4 separate regions of the Homo sapiens genome follow, and regions 1, 3 and 4 are each linked to region 2. Evidence: fine-mapped expression QTL. A gene starts in region 2. Each other region holds a variant in brackets. All regions are shown on one strand. Distances are from middle to middle. Region 1 holds the start of LOC124903715 (a long non-coding RNA gene). Region 2 holds the start of PMFBP1 (polyamine modulated factor 1 binding protein 1). Region 3 overlaps LINC01572 (long intergenic non-protein coding RNA 1572). Region 4 holds the start of LINC01572 (long intergenic non-protein coding RNA 1572).

Region 1 (4,167 bases), 700 kb before region 2:
TAGAGAGTACTTTCACATGTTGAATTCTGAGTAAAAAGAAAGCCTTAAAGAGGGGAATAATATGTTGATTTTGGGGCTATTTGTATTGGAGGGGAACTGCAAGTGCTGATAGGAGCTCTGTTTTCATTGAACATTTTCCTCAATATGGAAACAATAAGTAGTAAATGAAATTTGCATATCATCTGAAATATGCATAATATATATAATTGCAATACTTAAGAATACAAAATTATATAATTGGACTGGGGATGTTAGGAATCTTATTTTAATTTCAATTTGTAATTCCTTGAAATTTTTTTTTTGTTTTTTGTTTTTGGAGACAGAGTCTCACTCTGTTGCCCAGGCTGGAGTGCAAGTGCGGTGGCAGGATCTCGGCTAACTGCAAGCTCCGACTCCCGGGTTCATGCCATTCTCCTGCCTCAGCCTCCCCAGTAGCTGGGACTACAGGCGCCCACCAGCACGCCTGGCTAATTTTCTGTATTTTTAGTAGAGACACGGTTTCACTGTGTTAGCCAGTGTGGTCTTCATCTCGTGACCTCGTGATCTGCCTGCCTCAGCCTCCCAAAGTGTTGGGATTACAGGCGTGAGCCACCGCGCCCAGCCAATTCCTTAAAAAATTTTTAAAATTTTGGCCAGGCTTGGTGGTTCACACCTGTAATCCTAGCACTTTGGGAGGCTGAGGCGGGCGGATCACATGAGGTCAGGAGTTCAAAACCACCCTGGCCAACATGGTGAAACCCCGTCTCTACTAAAAATATTTTTAAAAAGGCCAGGTGTGGTGGCTCACACCTGTAATTCCAGCACTTTGGGAGGCTGAGGCAGGCGGATCATAAGGTCAGGAGATCAAGACCATTCTGGCCAACGTGGTGAAACCCCGTCTCTACTAAAAATATGAAAATTAGCTGGGCGTGGTGGCGCGTGCTTGTAATCCCAGCTACTTGGGAGGCTGAGGCAGGAAAATTGCTTGAACCAGTGAGTCAGAGGTTGCAGTGAGCCAAGATTGCACCATTGCACTCCAGCCTGGCAACAGAGTGAGACTCCGTCTCAAAAAAAAAAAAAAAAAATTAGCCGGGCATGGTGGCAGGCACCTGTGATCCTAGCTACTTGGGAGGCAGAGGCAGGAGAATCGCTTGAACCTGGCAGGCAGAGGTTGCAGTGAGCCAAGATTGCGCCATTGCACTCCAACCTGGGCGTCAAGAGCAAAACTCCATCTCAAAAATAAATAAATAAATAAAATGTTGATATAATTTCAGACTTATAGAAAAGTAATGTACTTTACATAGTAAGAAAATTCTCTCACCTGCATTCCCCAAATATTAGCATTTTACCACATTTCCTTTTTTGACTTCTCTCTCGCATTCATAATCTTACTCTCTCCATAAAGACGGAGAATAAATAGAAATATACACATTGCCATTTTTTTGGGAAGGATTTCAGAGTAAATTTCACACATGGTGCCCCTTGACATCAAAATAAGTTAGTGTGTATTTCCTAAGAACAAAGATATTTTACATAACCACAGAACAATGATCAAAATCAGAGAACTAACATTGCTATAAAACTATTAGGTTATTATAGTCCTTATTCAAATTTTCCTAATAATATCCTTTGTATGAAAAGAATATCTTAGATCACAAGGTATATTTAGCTGTCCTCTTTCATGTTCTTTCTTTTTTTTTTTTTTTTTTTGAGACAGAGTCTTGCTCTGTCGCCCAGGCTGGAGTGCAGTGGTGCGATCTCGGCTCACTGCAAGCTCCGCCTCCTGGGTTCATGCCATTCTCCTGCCTCAGCCTCCCAAGTAGCTGGGACTAAGGGCGCCTGCCACCACTGCCACCACTCCCGGCTAATTTTTTGTATTTTTAGTAGAGGCAGGGTTTTACTGTGTTAGCCAGGATGGTCTCGATCTCCTGACCCCGTGATCTGTCTGCCTCTGCCTCCCAAAGTGCTGGGATTACAGGCGTGAGCCACC[G/A]TGCCCAGCCGTTTTTTTTTCTTTTTTCTTTTTTTTTAAAGACAGGGTCTAGCTCTGTAGCTCTGTCACCCAGGCTGGAGTGCAATGGCGAGATCTTGGCTCACTGCAACCTCCACCTCCTGGGCTCAAGTGATCCTCCCACCTCAGCCTCCTGAGTACCTGGGACTACAGGCATGCATCACCACATCTGGCTAGTTTTTGTATTTTTTGTAGAGATGATGTCTCACCACATTGCCCAGGCTGGCCTTGAACTCCTGGGCTCAAGCAATCTGCCCGCTTTGGCCTCCCAAAGTGCTGGGATTACATCTCACCTGGCCCATATTCTTTAATCTAGCATTGTTCCTCTGTCTTGCCCTTTTATGACCTTGACATATTTGAAGAGTGTAGGTCAGCTGTTTTGTCAAGTATCCTTCAACTGGGTTCATGTGATGCTTCCTTATGATTAGAATCAGGCTGTGTATTTTGGTAGAAATGCCAAAAAAGAAAGCGTGTTCTTTCTCGTGTATTGTTTCATGAGATACATGATATTGATTTGTCTCTTGATTGCGGGCATCAGCTTTGGTCAGTTAGTTATGGTGGTTCCTTCTGGGGTTATCCATTCTGAAGTTACTATTTTTCCCTTTGTAATTAATGAGAATCTAGTGAGGATATGCTTGGAGATGATTTAATAAGGAATTGAACTGTTTAAATGAGATTGTTTTGAAAAAATGGCTAATAAAAATCAATAGGGAGAAATATTTGGCAAATGAAAGTGGTGGTCATTAAGGTTTATTTTTAGCCTATACTCCCCTTCCCGGTTTTCTAGATGATCAGGAAATTCAGCAGGCCAGAACTTTAGAAAGACTGGGAAGAATTTTCTAAAATGTCACTGATCACTCATGGTGTCAAACGAGGAATGGAGGCTTTGGGAAGTGGACAAAGAAACTATTACAGAATAAGAAGGAAGATCATGTGTTACCTTGGACAGAGCCTGGGTAACAGGGTCTTAGAATGTGAAAGTTGGTATTATGATAAATTGTAACTTATTTCTAAATCTTTTATTTAAGAAAAAAAAAACACCTTTAGCTCTCATCAGTGTGTTCTGCTATAACTGAGCCTCTGGTTGGCGAGGGCTCTGGCTGGCTGGTCCTTGAAGGATGATGGCAGAGGGGCTGGTAACTGTGCAAGAGCTCACAGAAGGGAAAGTGAAGGCTCCAGGGCCAGGCTTGCTGTTTCGTGTTTCTAGTCTCCCCAGTATTTTTTAAATGTAAGGCCTGGTAATAGCATTTGATTAATTTTCCATTTTCTCTACTAAAACTGTTAAAAATTTGAAGTCCTTCCTGCCTTCCTTTCCGTCTTCTCTCCCTTATCTGAAGGAAATGAATGAGAAAGCAGATGTTTGCCCTGGGATGGCTCAGAAAGCATAGTCTCATCTTCACCTTTCACCCTTTCTCTGTTATTTGGATTTTGGAAATACAGCCTTCTGATTTTTCTTCCTTTCATGTCAAATCATCGTCAGCTTTTTCTCCTGTCCATTCTTAGAATTCCTGCCAAGACCCACTCTTCCTTTCTGGAGGTAATTATTCCTGCTTTCATCTCCAAGGCTGTATGTACAATAGGGTTGTTTCTTACAACTCCTGAGGTGAACAGAGGGCTACTGAGCCTTGAGCCTGGAGAAGCAATCAAGGTGGAGGTGCAGAAGGTGACCAGGAGGCTCTCTGTGCCTGAGGAATCTCACTGTCTAACAGGAGAAGATTCCTAAGAAGCCTGTCGATGTGGACCCTGAAAACTGAAGATCTGCCAGTGTATAAAGGTCATGGGATGTAGTTGTAGCCAAAGATAGAGCGCGAACGGGTGGAGGGGGAGAAGCAAGGACTTTCCCCTCTAGGGAGTGCGGAGCCCTGAGATCTGGGGGACCTGGCAAAGTCACCTGATCTCTCCTTGTTTTAGAGGGTAAGACTGGCTCCCCAGTGGAAGATGGAAGAATGTGAGGGAAAGCTTATGTAAGGTGCAGGATGCCAGAGGGTCTAGGTTAGAGTGAGACACTTAATGCTGTTTTTAGGTGGTTCCACCTGGGAGAAATGGGGAAGAGAGCAGGTAAGGATGATCTGAGGATGTGAGCTTGGGCCTTGGATAGGCGCTGATTCTCCAAGTGGGAGAGAATAAGATGAAGGGCAGGAATGGGTAAGAAGGGAGGGTGAAAATGATGTTATCATCAA
Region 2 (4,141 bases):
AGGAGTTTTGAATACAAAAAAGGAGTTGCCTGGGCAGATGGCAGTAGACAAGGCATGAAGAAATGAAGGTCTCAACAGAGACGCAAGAGGCAGAACAGAATATGTAAGAACAAGGGTTCAAGAAGAGGGAGACATGAGCAAAGTCCTGGCTTCAGAGAGTCAGTAGCCGGGGATCTGGTAGAGAGTCCCTGCCTCTGGGATGAGCCCTTCCTCCACAAAATATCTGTCCAGCCATACTCCTCAGTCAGACAGCACTGTGAAGGTTCACATGGCATTTCGTAAAGCCTGTGGGGCTCCCCCAAAACACTCTTCCCTATCCATCTGGCAAACATTACTGTCAAATGTATCAAAAACTTATCATATAACACTTCCAGTTTTTTCATCATAAGCCCTTCCAAACTGCCTGCTGCTATTGTTAATGACTGAAGATTCTGACATCTCCTTCATGGAACAAACTCCAGCTCTCTTTTTTTCTTCCTACTTACCTTACTTAGTAAATTTCAATATATTTTCATGCAAATGTTAGAACCTATGCCTTCTACTTTTCCTTCGAAATGCTCTTGGCTCTTGCAACTACAGCTGTGTAACTCCATAGCGGATGAAACCATCACAATCTAGAAAATCATTTCTCTGTCTTTTGGACAAGATTTCATTTGATTTCAGAATCATCTCCTGACTATCCAGTGGGCTTGCCTGCAAAGAAGTATGATTCTCAAGGATACATTTGTTCCATTACAACTTTTTGTATGATACTTGGGTGAGTTCATAGTTCCTCCTAAAGAAAGGTGTCCATCGTGGTAGAGCACTGAATCAGTGAACTTTAAAGCTAGGAAAGACTTCTAAAGGCCATTTATTATAGCTTCCTAGCTTACAGAAGCAGAAATGAAGCCTCAGAGATATGAAGGCCTTTGCAAAGGCCACTCCTCCAGTGAGGTGCTGAACCAGGTTTAGAAGCTTGGTGGCCTAGAATCCTGTTTAGTGTTCTTTTATGCCACGCTATTTTTAATCTTGCTTGACTAGTGTGGAAGTCATTTGTGAGTTCGCCAGTACAGGCATACCTCGTGTTACTGCTCTTCACTTTACTGTGCTTCACAGATATTGCATTTTTAACAAATTGAAGGTTTGTAGCAATCCTGCATCAAGCAAGTCTATTGGCGCCATTTTTCCAACAGCATGTGCTCCCTTATGTCCACATCAGCATTTTTTTAGCAACAAAGTATTTTTAATTAAGTTATGCACCTTGTTTTCTTAGACATAATACTATTGCACGCTTAGTAGACCACAGTATAGTGTAATCATAGGTTTTCTATGCACTGAGAAACCAAGAAATTTGTGTGACTTGTCTCATTGTGATATTCGCTTTATTTTGGTGGTCAGAAACCAAACCCGCAATCTCTCTGACATATGCCTATATTTCTTTGAGGAGGTAAAGGAAGAAGTTAGGCATGGCCATGTGACTTGTTTTGGCTAATGAAATGTGAGCAGAAGCAAAGTGTTTCACTTCCGCTTTAAGAACCAGTAGGTGATTCACCAAGTTCCCTTTCTGCTACCATGGCAACAGGCAACATACTAGATAATAGAAGTTCACCAGCTGAGGACTACGAGGATATTGAGGACAATGTGGAGCAGAGCCCCAGCTGACTCATAAAGGACATGTAGCATGAGTAAAAAATAAACCTTCACGGTCGTAAGCCACTGAGACTTGGGGGTTGTTTGTTACTACACCATCACCTAGCCTGTCCCCACCAGGTGAGCCTGAGCCACACCTCCATTTCCATGATGCACCTCTGTGCATGAAGACTTCAGAGGGTACTCAATGCAGGAAATCAGAATTCAGCTCCATAAAACATTCCAGATTCCACATATCACCAACATTCTTTCTTCCTCTTGGCTTATATTAGGGATAGGGGATGTGGTTTGTTACAAAGGATGAGTATTTTGATAGCTTCTCATTCCTTGAACTATTCTGCAGGTAAGTTCCTGGTGGAAATTCCTCTATTCTTAGGGTTAAAAACAGAATGAATGAGATGATTTTAATAAGCTCAGTGCATTATGACCTCAAATGCATCATCCTGTACTTACATGCACATACATGTGCAAAGATCTTTGGTTTCCTGGGAGGCTTTCTAGCTAGATAAGTCTCAGCACTTCACATGTTTCCTAACTTTATGAGCATCAACATTATGGCAAGCTGATGCTTCAAAAACACCATATCATCAGATATTTCATATGAATAGTTACAAAATTAATGGAAGCTCCTCATAGAGTAGTAAGAGAGCCTCTGTGACCCTGGGTAAGTCACTTAGCCTCTCTGGGCCTCAGTTTCCTTATCTTTAAATGAGGATAGTAGTAGTCCCTGCCTCCCAGGGTTCATGTGAGAATGAAGTTAGGTCATGCACATCATGTCTGGTTCATAATAAGTACATAATATTAGCTATATCTGAGCCATAGAGTACATAGAAATCTAAAAAGTAAACTCGATTCAGACTTTTTGCTTTCCAAGAAGGGTAAATTCAGAAACTGTTTGGTTCACCAAGTAGTGGTTTTCTGGAAAAGATGTAAAACCATGGTCCTGCCATCTGGAGGTTTTAACACCCTTTTAAAAACACAAACAGATGGGTAAGCAAGTGGGTATTGCTAACAGTTCAGGAAAATTTTCCAAACCTCTTGCTGAGGGCATAGATCCAGCTGGGAAAATCTTTAAAGGGCAGAGGCTCATTTATACTTTTTCCATCTTAAATACTTGGACTTTTTCAGGTTTATAACAAAGCTCAGAAAATACTAAAGGTTAAAGGAGAATTGAGAGCTGCCAAGGAAATGAAAGATGAGGTAAGGCTCCTAACTCCTCTACATGCATGGAGTTGAATATTCATTACAAGGGACTTTTTTCATGTTTTATGATTCAAAATTCCAGTAATAAGCATCACAAAATATCATGGACAGAGGTGGGCAGCAGAGCATCGTGTTTAAGAGCCCAGACTCGAGCTGGGTGGGTCTGGGTCCATATCTACCAGCAGTATGATACTGAGTTTGTTTCCTACTTTTAAGTTTCCTTTGCCTTATCTAGAAAATATGAATTGTGATCACCTACTCTAAGTTTCCTTTGCCTTATCTAGAAAATATGAATGATGATCACCTATTCCAAAGACTTGGTATGAGGATTAGCAAAGGTAGTGCATGTAGAAAGCACTTAATCGATATTAACTATTGTTGCTAACATTCTCTCTTTATCTGGAATGATATGAAAATGGAGTGTCTGATTAGTTTAATATTTTGGTCAAACTGTGTTTATGGGGCCAGGCGCAGTGACTCAAACCTGTAATCCCAGCACTTTGGGAGGCCGAGGCAGGAGGATCACTTGAGCCCAAGAGTTTAAGACCAGCCTGGGCAACATGGTAAGACCCCTGTCTCTACAAAAAATAAAAAAAATTAGCCAGGTGTGGTGGCACGCTCTTTTGGTCCCAGCCACTCAGGAGGCTGAGGCAAGTGGATCACTTGAGCCTGGGAGGTTGAAGCTGCAGTGAGCCATGATCACACCAGTGCATTCCAGCCGGGGCGACAAAGACCCTGTCTCAAACAACAACAACAGCAGCAAACTATGTTTATGTATGCCCTACCTTGTTCCAGAAAGGATTTAAGGGGACTTTTTTGATGAGTAAAGGATTGTCCCATGTACCATATGCTTTTTAACAGACCTCCTACCAAGAGGTGAGCAGATTCTGAAACAGGCAGTCCACTCCTTTCCTGCTGCATTACTGGAGCCATACAGAACTTCATACCAGTTCTGTGGGGAACAAGGATCTCGTATGGATTTTCTAGAAGGCTCTTTCTTCATTTAATTTATATCTTTGGAGCACCTTCAATATGCCAGGCGTTCATTGTTCTAGGAGCTGGGAATAAAGCAGTGAACAAAATAGACAAAGATCTCTACTCTCATGGAGCTTACCTTCTTAGTAGAATAATTTCTCAAATGATATGATAGTGAAAAAAGTCTGTGAAAATTGCCCAGGTGCCAATAAAAATCAGCCCACGTTCCATAGGTGGCTGATCTCCAACATATGTCATATGTATCCTAGTCTGTATACTTACAGGGTGTGCCAATTTTGTTTTTATGGCAAACACTAATCTAGCCTTCCATGAT
Region 3 (4,167 bases), 230 kb before region 2:
CAGTGATCCACCCAACTTGGCCTCCCAAGGTGCTGGGATTACAGGCATGAGCTACTGCACCCGGCTGCCATTTCCATTCTTACCCTACTATGAATATAATTAAAGCCATTACATTGTATACTTGGAATGGGTAGGTTGTATTATGAATTGTATTTCAATGAAGGCATTTTTTAAAAATTAGAGCCATGTGACCAGGTGCAGTGGCTCACACCTGTGATCCCAGCACTTTGGGAGGCTAAGGCGGGTCGATTACTTGAGGTCAGGAGTTCAAGACCAGCCTGGCCAACATGGTGAAACCCCATCTCTACTAAAAATACAAAAATTAGCCAGGTGTGGTGGCACACACCTGTAATCCCAGCTACTCAGGAGAATGAGGCAGGAGAATTGCTTGAGCCTGGGAGGTGGAGGTTGCAGTGAGCCAAGATTGTGCCACTGCACTCCAGCCTGGCCGACAGAATGAGACTCTGTCTCAAAAAAAAAAAAAAAAAAAATTAGAGCCATGTAACAGTCTGTTTCTATTTACCATCTCATCCTTTGTGATATTATCTTATAGGTAATATATACATTAACCGAGAAGGTGTTATTATATTTCATTAGTCATTTTCTTTTAAAGATAAGAAAAAGTATAGTCCTTTATAGTTACCCAAGTATTTACCATTTCATATTTCTTCATTCTTTCTCTATAAATTTTCATCTGATTTTTCTCACCCTGAAGAATTTATATTTCTTTTAGAACCATTCTGCTGATAACAGGCTCTCTCAATTTTTTCTGAAAATTTATTTATTTTGCTTTCATTTTTTAAGATGATTGTTTTCCTAGGTAGAGATTGTAAGATTGGCAGTTCCTGCTTCCCTCAGCACTTTAAGATGTTCCATTATTTCCTCACCTCCATTGTTTCTGATGAGAAATCAGTAATAATTTGTATAATTGTTCCCCTGTTTATAATGGAGCTGTTTTTCCTCTGGCTGCTTTTCTCTTTATTTATGTTTTCAACTGTTCGGTGAAAATGTGCCTAAGTGTGGTTTCTTTGTATTTATCTTAATTGGAGTTCAGATCTTGTATCTATAAATTTATGTCTTTCATAATTTAGGAAAAATTTGGTCATTATTTCCTCAAATCTTTTATTATACTGCATTTTCACAGCTCTGAGAATACATTTAAATATAACTTAAAACCACTTAAATATAGTCCCACAGAATAGTGAGTCTTTGTAGGTTTTTTTCAATATTGTTTCTGTCTCATCTTCAGATTGAATATTTTCTATTGATGTATTTTCAAGTTCACGGCTTCCTTTCTTTGGCTTTCTCCAACTTACTTTTTTTCCATCCACTGTTTCTTCATGTGTTTAGTAGTTTTTAATTGTGCTATTGTGGAGGCTATGGCTATCTTTAAATACTGCTGATTTTGTTCTAGCAAGCAATTCAAGGGACTGAGCTCAAAAATGAAACTCCTCCCTGAGCTAAACTCTTCACTCATTTTTTTTAGCCTTCCAGCTGTTGTTTTTTGCCAGGTCCTCTGCACATGCATTAATCAAGACCAGCCAAGGATTTGAGGGGGTTTATATGAAGATTTTATACCTCCAGGCCCTCAGCTTTCTCCTGTCTGAGGTCTTCCCATGATTTTCTAGCAATTCCATCAGCCCAAAATTTTTTCCTTTGAATCCTCAAATCAGGTAAGACTATAGCTTTCTGCTTGCGTTCCAGCCGTTTCATGTGGTGTAGACTGACTGGAAAGAGCCTTTAAGTGAAAAGCCAGATGCAGAATCAATGCAGTTCCCCTTTCAGTTTCTACCTGCTTTAAGTTGTCCCAGTGCCTTCAAATAGTTGTTTTTATATTTTTCCCCAGAATGTATTGCTGTCTATTGGAAGGTTAACATAATACAAGTCAATCTACCATTGCCAAAAGTGTAACGGCATCATAATTTTAAAATTTGGATAATACTTTTGCACATAGAATGTTCCTTTTTTATGCCCTCTCGTTCTTGTCTCATGAATGCAATCAAAATATTTTCTTATTTAACAATATTGATTATGGGTCTTATGAGATTATTTTCTGCTTCCTGTTCTCTTTTCGTCAATTTTTTTTTTTCCTTATTCAGCTTTTTAGTGTATGGAGAGAGGAACTTTGTTTAGATATCTGGTCCTTGACTTTCCATTCATATTTGAGGGTGAGGTTCTAAAAAGACAATTGAAATCTTCTTGTGCATAAATGTGGATTGTTATCTGTTGAAATCAATGTTAGACAGAATGAC[T/G]AGTCATTTTATTAGGGATCTCCAAATGTCAGTATTACGAAGTCTCTTATTTTATGATGGTGCTATTTCAGAGAGGATTTTTCTAAGTTCCTGTCTTGAAATTATGAGTTTGGTTGTCAGCATTCTTGGAGCCACACTGGGGAAAGAAGCTGGCATGGTGATATGGTTTGGCTTTGTCCCCACCCAAATCTCATCTTGAATTGTAGCTCCCATAATTCCCACATGTCGTGGGAGGGGCCTAGTGGGAGGTAACTGAATCATGGGGGCAGGCTTTTCCTGTGCTGTTATCGTGATAGTTAATAAGTCTCACAAGATCTGATGGTTTTATAAAGGACAGAGACTAAGTCTAGAAAGTCCTTCAAACTTATTCACCCTGGTACTATGGGTACCCTTAAAGAAAATATTTGTATATGCATGCCCAGATTCAAAGATGTGAGCCTCATACATTGGTACGTGAAGACCTGGCTGTGAGCCAAAGTCACAAGAAATGTAGGTAAGTACAGCTGGGCTCCTCCCATGCATTGAGAGGTACTCACAGGCTCAGCCCTAAGCAGGCTTGCACTGGGCAGGTTTTCAGAAAAAAGCCATGCCCAATTTATTGTTGCTTATCCAGCAATGACCAAGAATTATGGCATCAGAGTATTTAAATAGTGACAACAAAGAACATGCTGGGGCTGCTGGGTTCTCCTTGTTTCAATAAGGATATCTTGTGCCAGTGACATTAGTAACAGCTGTAAAGAATTCAACTGCTTGGTTGACTAGTCAGAGGATGCTTACCAGAACTGACCTGTAAGTCTGAATAAGCATCCTTAGAGGTCTTGAAGTTGTCAGCAAAGCAAACATCCTGGGGAGAAAATAAAGCATAGAGACATTTAATTTGAAAATTAAAAGGAATATGACATTATTATGTATCTTAGGCTTATGATAACAGATGTGTGTATACACATATAACAAACATTATATATGGACTGCAAAGTACTTGAAAATGATACCATATCAACAACTGTGCACTTAAAAATTCTGAATAAAGAGCACAGATACTAAGTAGAGACAAATTTTATCCATGAACAATCAGTCCAGGAAAGATTCCTGAAGTTAACTTCTCAGCTGGATTTTGAAGAGGATGAAGCCTATGTATCTTTATGGATGAAAGAGGGAAGTGATATAAATTCTAGGCTACCAAGCCAAAAAAAAATCAAGTTGAATTTTATTTATTTAATTGTAGAACAAATGATCAGCAGCAGAAGTCTCCCCACTGACCCCTAGCCACACACACACCCTTTTTTAATGATCTGCCACTCATCACAGTAATGAAGATGTTCTTTAGGCAATGTTATACCATATGGCCTAAAAGCTTAGAAGGCAAGAAAAGTCAAACCTGAGAATAGCAAACATAGTGAGCAGCTGAAGTGGAATATCTTTTATGGAAATAAACTCGTAGTTAATAAAACAGTAGTTCTAACAATGAAGTACCTTGAGTAATAAACTTACTGATTAATACGTAGCCAATGGGATACTTGAACTGAAGAATAATATTGTACAAATAATCTCAAAGTTTAGTTGGTGTACGAAAAGTCAGATGATGAGAATTTTCTAGCGCTTCCTTCTGCAATCATCTACACATGAGATAGTTAAGGCCAAATGATACAGTTGGCTGTATCCCCACCCAAATCTCATCTTGAATTTTAGCTCCCGTAATTCCCACGTGTTGTGGGATGGACCGGGTGGGAGATAACTGAATCATGGGGAGGATTTCTCCCATACTGTTCTCGTGGTAGTGAATAAGTCTCACGAGATCTGATGATTTTATAAGGGGTTTCCCCTTTCACTTTGCTCATTCTCTTGCCTGCCGCTATGTAAGATGTGCCTTTTGCCTTTTGCCTTTTGCCTTTCGCCTTCCACCATGATTGTGAGG
Region 4 (4,167 bases), 490 kb before region 2:
ATTTATTTTTCTCCTTTTAAGTACCTCTATGTTCAAGTTTCTTTTCTGTGCTTTCTAACCTCTAAGATCACTATATATTTTTAAATGAATGGTGTAAGTCCTTACAAAATTTAGGCATTTTTTTTTCTTGTCAGATAAATAACAGTTCAACTGACTTTGTTCAGTACAACACTGACATCCAAAGGATACTCGGGTTCATCTGAAGGCCTCTTGGGCTTCTGCTGAGTTGGTTTGATTTTCAAATGGTCTATGTAGGCAGTAAGCTGCTCATGGAACATTCTCTTTTGAAACCCTGGGCATTTTTTGATCTCTTACCCATTTATCAAATCTCATCACATTAAATGGCTCCACAATGCAGGTGGCCTGTGTTTTCCTAAGTGCCTCCTCTTCTTAAGAATGTATTACTCAGTTCATTAATGTTTCATACTTAAGTATTCTGTGTATTTAATTTTTTATTTAATGAAATTTCTAACCTTCAGGCTGACGAATTATTCAGAATGTTTCATCCAAGCTGTTGGAAAAGTGCTCATTAGCAGGGAGTTTTGAAGATGGAATTTTAAGAAAGGGGTTGGCAGGATCCCAAACACATATAGATCTAAGCTTTCATAAATGCTTCCCTACCTTAGCTATGGAGGAAGAAATTGTTGATAAGCAGATAAGTTTTGCTTTAGTTTTTACATTTTAGTGACAATAACAATGATTTCTGTGGTCTGATAAAAGATGTTCGTTTAAAGAGTTATCTGCAGAAAGCTGTGTGGTCACTAATGTTTACTTTCATTGACAAATGAGATCGTCTTGTGTGGGACTATCATCATCAAATGAGACACAACTGAAACTAAAGCAGCCATGCTTACCATTCGGTTTAAAATTTTTAAAATTAAAATAATGCTCCTAACGAAAGGAGTCTCAGCTGAATTAGTTTGAGTGTTGGCATGGACTGGGCTCAAATCACCTGCTCATCTTTAACACCTGCCTTCAGATTTATGGGCGATTAAGAACTTAAGTCTGAGAACCTATGAGACTGTCACAGAAAATAAAATTTCAGTTCTTCGTCCATTAACTGGTTCAGATGAAATTTGGGGTCAGAAACAACCAGAACGTTAAATTTCATTGTAAACTTAAATCGCATTCAATGGTTAAAGACTACAAAATGTATGTAGTGCAGTTAAAAAACCTCACACAGCAAGAGGTTATTGAATGTTTAAAGATCCAAAATTTCAACTTTTTGTGGTTAAGTACAGTTATGTTGGGTAACAAAGTTGACAGCAGGTTTCTGTTACCCCCCTGTTGGAGGAGGAGGAGGCGCTACCACACGCTTACCTTAGGGAAATAACGTGCACTTTATAACCGTTCAGGTAAATCGTTGGGTGAGAAAGAAGAATAAAGGACACAGCCGGTGGAGGGACCCCAGCACACAGTCCCGTGGGTGCTCCGGAGGAAACGGCCGCAGCCCCAAATCTCCTAGTCTCTCTAGCAGGGAGTTTTCCCGCGGAGTCTCGCCTGGCGGCCGGAAGCCACCTCAAGCCGCCCACCCGGAAGCCGTCGTCTTGGCAACTGGGTATCGTCCCACCCCCTTTTCTTAGCAACGCCTATCGCCTTAGACGTCTGAGGTCAGCCGAGCCTCGATTGGTTCCTCTGTCTTTCACTCTGGGAGACGTTTGAGACCCAGCGTCTCTAGATCTCGTATTTGAATTTGTGG[C/G]GCTTGGTGTCCGCGAGTTGCCGAATGAAGCTGAGCGTCTCAGTGGAACCAGGGATCTCAGGGGTGAGCGACCGCGAGGGGAGAGCGACGAAAAGGGCGGCCGGAGCTGGAGGGGCGCGGAGTTAAACAAAAAAGGGCGGCCGGAGCTGCAGGGGCGCCGAGTTAAACACGTCATTTCCAGATGGGGGGCTTCAGGCGAGCTGCTTAGCTCCCCTGAGGCAGGCCCTCCGTCTGTTCGCCTTTTCGTAGCCTCTGAGTTTTTCCCTCACGTCGTTTTCCGGCAGTCCCAGAGACGCCACGCCTGCCCCCGTTCTGTTGCCCCTGATGGAAGGCTCCTCTTAACGCTACCTTCCCTCTTTCACAAAATGTCTCTCAGCTTCCTTATTTCGACGTGCTTACACCTCCCCCAAGTATAATTCACTCCCCACTGATGTCTTTGGTAGTTTCATCCTCGTCTTCATCACTAATACTATGAGACACGGGGTGCGTGCACTTGACGATGTAGAAAAATGGTTTTCGCGCAACCTGGTGAGCGTCCCACACCTCACAAATTGAATCCAAAAAATTCCTTATTCATAAAAGATGCTGCTGTCCTACTCTTCCCGACCGGGAATATCATGACGTGGAAAGCAGCAAGTGACAGCGTTTTATAAAGCGCTACAAAAGTAAGCTATTGATGCGTTCACATCGGAAACATAATTGTTTTGTTTTCGGTCGGACCCTCTGGATCCATAGGTTTCGTATTGGGTTTATGGATACTGTTCAGACTTTGAAATGAATAATGCCAAAAGTTACGTTGGAGGACAAACTGAGGATTGATCCCAAGCACAAAAGTAACCACTGATTAAAACCTTCTCTTCATTAACCTTTAGCTTCTTTGTCTATTGTGATACTTCTCCCACCCCGGTGGATTTAATTTCCATTGAGATTTATGAACATTTTAGGAGTTTACAGTCTAAATAGACAGCTTTCCCCACCTCTCCTGTATATGACCATGAAAATCCTCTATTAACTTTCCAGTTTGATAATGCAGTATGAGCTTCTATATGCTTAGCCTCTAGAACAGAGATTCTTTTGGGGGTGGGGGGTCTTAGTCCTGTTTAAGACCCAGAGGAAAACCTTGGAGCTTTTCTCCAGAATATGACACATACACACAAAATTTTGTATTAGTTTTAGAGAGTTGTATTTTGTTTTAGTAGAAAAGAGATCTGACTTTGTTGCTCAGACTGATCTCCAGTGTCAGCCTCCCAAAGGGTTGGGATTACAAGCGTGAGCCGCCGAGCCCAACCCTGTTTTAGGGAGTTTTAGATTCTGTTTTGAAATGTGGATATTAGTGGGACCCCAGTCCAATTCTACACGTTTATTTATATATATACACACACGTATGTCTATATATATAATTATATATATTTACATAATATATATCTATGTATATAATTTTTTTAAGTAGAAATAAGCAGCGAAACAGTGTTTTAACTTCTACCGAATGGCTGTCATTTCTTAGTTTTAAGACTTGTAGTTCGGAGGGAGGTGGAATGAGAAGGCTGAAAATTTTACATGAGCTCTGATTTAAGGATATTAGAAAAGTCATTTCTAAGTGTGGCGGTCCACGCCTGTAATCCCAACCAACACTTTGGGAGGCTGAGGTGGAAAGACTGCTTCAGCCCAGGAGTTCGAGACCAACCCAGGAGTTCAAGACGATAGTCGGACCCCATCTCTACAAAAAAATTTTAAAATTAGCCAGCCGTGGTGGTGTTCGCCTTGCTCCCAGCTACTCAGGAGGCTGAGGTGGGAGGATCACTTGGGCCGGGGAATTCCAGGCTGCAGTGGCCAATGATCGTGCCTATCTCCAAAACAAACAAACAAAAAACAGAGAGATAAAGGTAGTAAGGTAGTATATGAGCACAGGGGCATACCAAAAAATAAGTTCACAAGGTATTGCATCCAGAGTCTTTTTGAATTAACAAGAAATAGGAAAATTCTTGATCAACATGAAGAGTGAAAATAGTTTGTGTGCCTTAATTTTTTGGATGTTTTATATTAAAATAATTTTATGGTGAATTCTACCAGCATATACCTGAATATAATCTCATAATCTTCTTCCTAACCATCTCAGGCATTATCTTTCACATGAGAACATTAGCTTACCTGAAATTTGCTTTTATATATGATGTGAGGAATGGCTTTAACTAAATTTTTTTTCACTGTTCGGTTGCCATTTTGGGGAGATTGGTCTTCAGTTTTGCTTTATTTTGATTGTCTGGTTTTAGAATTAGGGTAATGGTGTCTGACATCTTTAAGTGATCTGGGATGTGTTGTATTCTTTACTTCTTGAAAAAGTTTGTATAAGATTGGCATTGCATTGTTAAGTGTTTGATAGAATACATCCATCTATGTAGATCCATATTTTCATAATTTTCCTTCAGTTTGAATAACTTCATTTATTTAATACTGCATGTAGGTGAAGG

What was found. PIP is the estimated chance that this variant, and not a neighbour inherited with it, causes the effect.
Region 1: its variant is fine-mapped to the expression of PMFBP1 in tibial nerve (GTEx, PIP 0.97). The same link has a PIP of 0.9 or more in thyroid.
Region 3: its variant is fine-mapped to the expression of PMFBP1 in whole blood (TOPMed, PIP above 0.99).
Region 4: its variant is fine-mapped to the expression of PMFBP1 in whole blood (TOPMed, PIP above 0.99).

Annotation. Positions count from the first base shown.
Region 1 is chr16:72,868,240-72,872,406 of GRCh38, reverse strand. All of the region lies in intron 4 of ZFHX3 (zinc finger homeobox 3), which reads left to right. LOC124903715 (a long non-coding RNA gene) reads right to left here and starts at 69. Exons shown (of 2, transcript XR_007065111.1): 1 at 1-69. The variant G/A (reference allele first, on the strand shown) is at 1,970.
Region 2 is chr16:72,169,885-72,174,025 of GRCh38, reverse strand. It overlaps PMFBP1 (polyamine modulated factor 1 binding protein 1), which reads left to right and starts at 1,871. Exons shown (of 21, transcript NM_031293.3): 1 at 1,871-1,972; 2 at 2,758-2,829. The coding sequence starts at 2,818.
Region 3 is chr16:72,403,328-72,407,494 of GRCh38, reverse strand. All of the region lies in intron 7 of LINC01572 (long intergenic non-protein coding RNA 1572), which reads left to right. Among named protein-coding and RNA genes, the nearest start is that of PMFBP1, 230 kb to the right of the region's middle. The variant T/G (reference allele first, on the strand shown) is at 2,253.
Region 4 is chr16:72,662,487-72,666,653 of GRCh38, reverse strand. LINC01572 (long intergenic non-protein coding RNA 1572) reads left to right here and starts at 1,684. Exons shown (of 14, transcript NR_126330.2): 1 at 1,684-1,762. ZFHX3-AS1 (ZFHX3 antisense RNA 1) reads right to left here and starts at 1,521. Exons shown (of 4, transcript NR_171704.1): 1 at 1,321-1,521. RefSeq lists enhancers at 1,723-1,782, 1,823-1,942. The variant C/G (reference allele first, on the strand shown) is at 1,700.